2 linked regions of the Homo sapiens genome follow. The protein of the gene in region 2 purifies or fractionates together with the protein of the main gene of each other region. This does not show direct contact. Each region holds a gene or a part of one and is shown on either strand. Other genes may lie near its edges.

Region 1 (3,824 bases), on a different chromosome or scaffold from region 2:
TAATCCTCCCCCGCGGCAGCTTTGTAGCTCATTTTTAATGACACCAACATCTTTACTGCAGAATCAATTTCATCCTGAGAGAGGAAATAAAAGGGATGGCTAAAAGTATTACTAATAGCTGATATGTGCTGAATGCCTATTCTGTGGCAGGCACTGTGTTAAATGCTTTTACACGTGTTACCTTAGTTAGTGTCACAACCCTACAAGGCAGGTATTGTTGTCACTGTCCTTTTCCAGCTCAAGAATCTGAGACTCAGAGAGGTAGAGGAGCTTACCCATAGAATCACAGCAAGTCATTGGCTCGAAAACACTTCATTTTTATCTGTTATTCTAGTGCTACCATGAACACTTTGGGACAGTAGCAGTGACACAATATACACTGTCATTTATGACAAAGTTCATATGCTAAAGATTTCTCAAACACCACTGATGCCAGAGAACGTGTGTGACAAGCTCCTTTAATTGAGATTCCTGGAGTTCTGCATTGGAACTAGTTTTTACATACCACACAGGTTGAGATGAATATTTACGTTAACTTAACCAATGATGCCACTAAGGATAGTAAGAGCAACTAAAACAGATAAAAGCAAGGACAAAAAATGTAGGCTCTCAGGTTATAAATTAAGGAGGGATTCACTGGGAAATAGTTACATCATCACATTTTGGAGTCTTATCAAACTATCTTGAAAAAAAAAAAACAAAGGTAAAATGTACCCTTGGGTAGTCTGGAAATGTATTAAAGACTCTTTTGCAGGAGTCCATAGTGGCCACCCCTGGAAGCCTGGTGTTTAGAAAAGCAGGCCTAATTAAGCTGATTAGTCATGCTATGCCCTAAAGCTCTATTCTGGTAATTGGCCTTGCTGGATTAGATCACAAACAAAGAATATACACAGCCCAATTTGCTTACCAAGGGAAATACAAACATTTCCACTTACAGTTTATACAGAACATTCTTTCTTTTAAATCTCCTTAAATTCCTTTTACCATATACAGAATGTTCTATAAACACCAACCTCCATTCAGAGATAACTATTCCATCAGATATAGCACTTGGGCCATAAAGGACTGTGATTCTGGAGTAATCTGTGTTTCAAACTACAAAATTATCTGAGACTCATCATTAAAATGAGCCAGATTTGTGGAATCAGTAACCCAATGGATACGATTCATAGATGAGATGTTTGCCCAGGTTAGATAGTTAAGTATGTTCCACCCATCTCATTTCTGTAGTACCTAGGCTCAGTACTTGCAAAAAATAACAGTTTAGTACGTATAATCTATCCAATTATCTATGGGAAGGCTTACCTTGCTTTGAAGTACACTGCAGTCAATATCACTTAATAACTAGCTTTGTTGACATTTCATACTCTATCTGGTCTAATTCTGCTTGTAACTAGGAGGCTCTGCGAAAGTCAAACATTTAACCAATGTCCCTGCTCAAGGACCATCTGCATTTTGGAATAGCACCAAAATAAGACAAGCAGGCTTACCTTGTCTATTTTCTTATAATCAGTCTTAATCAGTGTCTGAACCAGGACACTGAAACAGGATTCAAAAGCTGATGTTAGCTGGGTGCAGTGGCTCACACCTGTAATCCCAGCACTTTGGGAGGCCAAGGCGGGCGGATCGCCTGAGCTCATAAGTTCGAGACCACCCTAGGCAACATGGCAAAACCCTGTCTCTACCAAAAATAGAAAAAATTAGCCAGGTGTGGTGGCACACACCTGTGTTCCTAGCTCATCGGGAGGCTGAAGTCAGAGGATTGCTTGAGCCAGGGAGGCAGAGGTTGCAGTGAGCCGAGATTGCACCACTGCACTCCAACCTGGGTGATGAAGTGAGATCCCCACCCCACAAAAAACCCAGAACATCAGTTTTTTTTAGACAGGGTCTCACTTCAGTCTCCTGAGTAGCTGGGACTGCAGGTGTGTGCCACCATGTCTGGCTAATTTTTAAATTTTTTGTAGAGACAGGGTCTCACTATATTATCCAGGCTGGTCCCAAACTCTTGGCCTGAAGCGATCCTCCTGCCTTGGCCTCCTAAGTGCTGGGATTATAGGCATGAGCCACGGAGCCTCGCCAAAAGCTGATGTTCAGAAAAAAAAGCCAGACACAAGACTGTATTACATACAGTTCAAACCCAGGTAGAGCTACCCCTGGTGGGAGGAGTCATGGCAGAGGCTGAGGCGCGTGAGGGTGGCTTCTAGGTGCTCTCTGCTTGCTGTTGATTTGGGTGCTGGTTACACAGGTGTGGTCATTTTGTGAAAATTCAGTGAGGTGCCTGCTTGTGCTTATGATCAGCATGTTTTTCTATATGAATGGTATATTTTGATTTTAGAAGTTACTTAAACAAAAAGGAGAAGAAGAAAAAGGCTCTGCTCTCTTTCTTAATACCTAAGACCTAGCATTGCTTCTTTAGTCCTGCTCAAACTATTTCCCCTCACAGCCCTCAGATGCTGACTTATTTCCCCCTAGGAAACTTGCCGCTTTAATGAGCTGCTGCTACTGAAGGATGTGGATCTTATTCTTTAGATACACTGGAGCAGAAAAGACCTTCAAGGTCCATGGCCTAGATAAATGGCAGGAGAAGAAAGAGCTCAAGGTGCCCTCTCTTAGAACTGGCACTCCCAATGTGGCTCACACTATTTTGCTAAAAGTTAATTTTTAAAATTTCCAAAACATCAAGTGCTTCTACTACCAAGACATTTCAGGGTCAGATACAAATGTACTTCTGAATTTTTCACCACTTAACTCTGGTCTCATTGTGCAACCTCTGATGTCTTCAACGTGTGCCAGCCAATTGCATTAGTCAAATAATACACTTGGAAGAGTTATTATAAAATGTATTAAGTTGACTAAAATAATGAACATAACTGCAGTCACTAAGAATTACTAACTAAAAACATTTACTAAATGTTATTCAAATTTAATATTAAATGGACAAAAATACCACTGTCAACTTCCCAAAATGATGGGCTTACATAACCCCACTGGGTCTTTTATTTATTTTATAATTTTGTTTTAAAACAACTTGGTTTAATCGTTTGAGGCCTACCTGGTGAGTAAATCTCTTTCTGTAAAAAAGTAACTTTTTTTTGACATTACTTTCTTTCAGTACTATTTATTTCATTTAAAATATGAGCTGGGTGCAGTGGCTTGCATCTATAATTCCAGCAACTTGGCAGGCTAAGGTGGGAGCCCAGGAGTTTGAGGGTGCACTGAGCTAGGATTGCACCACTGCACTCCAACGTGGAAAGAGCGAGACCCTGTCTCAAAAAATACACACACACACACACACACACACACACACACACACACAAATAATGATTTAAATCAGGGTCCCAAATAGTCAAAGTAAACTACTGGGGAATGTGAGATGGTTGACACAATCTGGTGACAAGCAAGGTGTTTGAAAAGATAACAGATAACAGGAGTTAAAAGTGTCGGAAGTCGGGCCGGGCGTGGTGGCTCACACCTGTCATCCCAGTACTTTGGGAGGCTGAGGCGGGCGGATCACCTGAGATCAGGAGTTCAAGATTAGCCTGGCCAACATGGCAAGACCCCCTCTCTACTAAAAATACAAAAATTAGCCGGGTGTGGTGGCGGGCGCCTGCAGTCCCAGCTACTTACGAGGCCAGGGCAGGAGAATCGCTCGAACTCAGGAGGCAGAGGTTGTAGTGAGCCAAGACTGTGCCAGTGCACTCCAGCCTGGGCGACAGAGTGAGACTCAGCCTCAAAAAAAAAAAAAAAAAAAAAGTGATGGAAGTCATGGAGAAGCCGGAGTGGAGTCACCCCAGAAGGAAATGAAATGCTTATGTTCTAGTTAA
Region 2 (3,824 bases):
CATTGAGTGGATGAAAGGAGCAACTACCAACATCTGCTACAATGTACTGGATCGAAATGTCCATGAGAAAAAGCTTGGAGATAAAGTTGCTTTTTACTGGTAAAAATATCTATCTTATACTTGGTGGCAGATAAAAACACTCATTTGATACTTACAACAACCCAGTAGAGTAAGCAAAGTGTCATCAACTTAATGCCTCAGGTGAGGAAAAATACCTCAAGGAAGCTACATGACTTCCTTCAGATCACATAACTAGTATGTGACAGAGCTGACATTCAAAGCCAAGTGTCCTGACTTCTAGTCTAGTGTTCTTGGCTTTGTAGTTGAAGAGGGAGAAAGGGCATTGGCAAATGGAAGAGAACAAGACTGAGTAGCTTTCTTCCTCATTCTTGCTTTGGAAGACAAATAGTATTGGGTTTTTCACCACCACTACTACCACTACCATTATCATTATCTTTTACAGAGCTGTGTGCCAGAAACTATGCTTAAGTGCTTAACAAATACTATCTCCTTTGATGCTTATAATAATTATGAAAGCACTATTTGTTTTCCTCATTTTACATAGGTGAAAACTGAAATTCTGAGAAGTCAAGTGACATATCTGAAGTGAAACAACTAGCTAGAAGCAAGGCTGAGATTCAAACCTAGGCAGTATAATTACAGAGCTTACACACAACCATGACACTCTATTATTCCTCTAATTCCTTACCTTGGCCTCTCAACAGGTTTGTAAAATAGGAATTCTTAGTTTCATTTTATAGGTGAACAAATGAAGCATTGAAGGGTTATGTAGTGAATAAGGTCATAGAGTGAATAAGTGGTAGAGCCAGGATTCAAATTCAAGTCTGCCTGACTCCTTGCTTGTACCACTAGGCCATGCAGCCTCCCCAGCAGGAAATTTCTAAGACTGCTTCTCCCAGGAATTTAGCTGTCTAGGAGATACTACTATACCGAATCCAAATAGGACTTAGAAATTCCAATAATTGGGGTGTTGCTTCTGCCACAATCTATGAGCACTCAGAGTTGATCTATTGTTTTTGTATTGTTTTGTTTTGTTTTGTTTTTTTGGAGACAGGATCTTGCTCTGTTGCCCAGCCTGGAGAGCAGCGGCATGATCTTGGCTTACTGCAACCTCTGCCCTGCCTCCCCTGCTCAAGCAATCCTGCCACCTCAGCCTCCTGAGTAGGTGGGACTACAGACATGCACCACCACGTTTGGCTAATTTTTGTATTTTGTATTTAGTATTTTTTGTAATGATGGGGTTTCACCATGTTGCCCAGGCTGTTCTCAAACTCCTGAACTCAAGCGATCCACCTGTCTTGGCCTCCCAAAGTGCTGGGATTAGTGTGAGCCACCATGTCTGGCCTGATTAATTATTTAAGCTAGCCAATAGGAGCAGCTTGGATGCTTCATGGGAGAGTTAAATTGAAACTCACTCAATATCTTTGCCCAGTTTGTGTGATATATTGAGAAGAGCCTTAACCTGAGAGACAAGAAATTTAGGTTCTCCTTTCAACTCTGCCATTAACATGTTATATAACCACAGACAAGGCATTTAACTAAGAGTCAGTTTCCTCTTCCATAAAATGGGGATAATAATTCTATCCTTGTTTTTCTCTCTAGATTGTTGTAAGAATCAAATGAGATAACGTTGTAAAAGCACTTATTTGTTTATTGGAAAACACTGTATAGGTGTGAGTGGTCTATTATTATACTACCATTGCTTAGTTGGGGGCCAGTTTGTCACTGAAATTCACTGTCCATTGTGTCTGTTGAGACTCTCTTTAGCTTCTGCTCTAGAGCTTTATGCTTGAGCTCCAGCCAACACTTGGGCTCATTTCCCAGGCTCTTTAAAGATCAGAAAACCTTTAAAGATCTTCAAAGGAGGCCGGGCATGGTGGCTCATGCCTGTAATCCCAGCACTTTGGGAGGCTGAGGCAAGAGGGTTGCTTGAGCTTAGGAGTTTGAGACCAGCCTGGGCAACACAGTGAGACCCCCATCTCTATTTCACAAAAAAGAAAGAAATAGGCTGGGCATGGTGCCTCATGCCTGTAATCCCAGCACTTTGGGAGACCAAGGCAGGTGGATTGCTTGAGCTCAAGAGTTCGAGACCAGCCTGGGCAACATGGCAAAACTCCCTCTCTACATAAAAGACAAAAATTAGCTGGGCATGGTGGTGCACGCCTGTAGTCCCACCTACTTGAAAGGCTGTGGTGGGAGGATTGCTTGAGCCCAGGAGGCGGAGGTTGCAGTGAGCACAGATCACACCACTGTACTCCAGCCTGGGCAACAGAGCAAGACCCTGTCTCAAAAAGTAATAGTAATAAAAATAAAATAAGAAAAATAAAAAGAGGAAAAAAAAGATCATAAAAGGAAATGCTTGTATCTGAATTTGTTCCCTGGTTTGAAAGAACTCAGGTGCCTAATGGAAAACAGAATACACAGGCCAGAGTTTTCAATCACTGGAGAGTTTTCCAGAATCCTGAGGCCCTTTCTTTCTAGAGACACCAGTTCCCCTACCACCCTTACCTGAACAGGCTCTGGAGAGCCTCTCTTTCCCCATCTGTAAAATGAGAGGAGTAGACTAGATCAGCATTTTCCAAAGAATGCTTCAGGAACTGCTAATTACTGGAGATATTAGTAGGGGGCTTCTTAATTCATAAAATGATTGAGTCTGAGAAACACTACATAATAAATTGCCTTTGTGTGAGATTCCCAATGTGTATTAGCATAGTAAAATCTCCAAGATGTCCTATATTAGAGATACCTGATTAATTTTGTTTAACATAGGATTTCCTGAATTTATTGAAGCCCCAAACACTTTTTGCCAGCATGCTATTGATATCACAAGAAGCAGTATTCCATGGAACACCCACTGGGGAAGCACTGGATTAAATAATCTCTAAATTTACTTCCAGTGCAAAATTCTGTAACTCAAAAACAAGACATCCTCACTCCATTTTTACATTGGTCACTCCCTCAACAAGAATTGTTAAAGATATTGGATACTCAGGGCTGCATTAGGCATTATGGATATGGGGGTAAAAAGGCAGGAGACAAGTACCATATAGGCAATTACTATTTAATTATTTTATGTTTATAGTAAAGCAAAAGCAAAATACAAATAAATTGCATTTTATTATAAGAAAGTAAAGTGCAAATATGCCGGATATGTGGTTACATCCCTTTGTTGCCTCTATATTTTTAAATGATATGCTTATACTGCTATTTTTCATCATTTTTAAAGAAAGTATTGATTTCTTACTACGATAGATAAGAATTTAGTTCTTATATACCTCTCTAACTTCCTTCTCTCTTCTTCTCAATATAATTATAGCTGTTTTCTAGTTAATTTAAAATCAGTTTACATAAGAATAGCATACTGTGGTTATATTTCCTTTTATGTACGGATTTTTATTTACTCTGAAGTTAATAATTGCTTACTGGGCTGGGTGCAGTGGCTTATACCTGTAATCCCAACACTTTGGGAAGCAGAGGCGGGCAGATCACCTGAGGTCAGGAGTTCTAGACAAGCCTGGCCAAAATAGTGAAACCTCATCTCTACTAAAAATACAAAAAAAAAATTAGCTGGGCATGGTAGTGCACACCTGCAGTCCCAGCTACTTGGGAGGCTGAGGCAGAAGAATCGCGTGAACCTGGGAGGCAGAGGTTGCAGTGAGCCAAGATCACACCACTGCCCTCCAGCCTGGGTGACAGAGCAAGACTCTGTCTCAAAAAACAATAAAAGTAATAATAATAATTGCTTACCGTTTTTCTTTTTGTACTATTTAAGCCTTTATCATATATTTAATATTTTCCAATCT

What was found.
Region 1: the proteins of ACSS2 (region 2) and WARS1 fractionate together in Homo sapiens (co-fractionation; one large-scale study listed by BioGRID). This does not show direct contact.

The regions. Positions count from the first base shown.
Region 1 is NC_000014.9:100,361,848-100,365,671, forward strand, and holds part of WARS1 (tryptophan--tRNA ligase, cytoplasmic), read right to left. Parts: intron 75-3,824; coding exon 1-74. UniProt on the Homo sapiens protein: Catalyzes the attachment of tryptophan to tRNA(Trp) in a two-step reaction: tryptophan is first activated by ATP to form Trp-AMP and then transferred to the acceptor end of the tRNA(Trp).
Region 2 is NC_000020.11:34,882,891-34,886,714, forward strand, and holds part of ACSS2 (acetyl-coenzyme A synthetase, cytoplasmic), read left to right. Parts: coding exon 1-99; intron 100-3,824. UniProt on the Homo sapiens protein: Catalyzes the synthesis of acetyl-CoA from short-chain fatty acids. Acetate is the preferred substrate. Can also utilize propionate with a much lower affinity.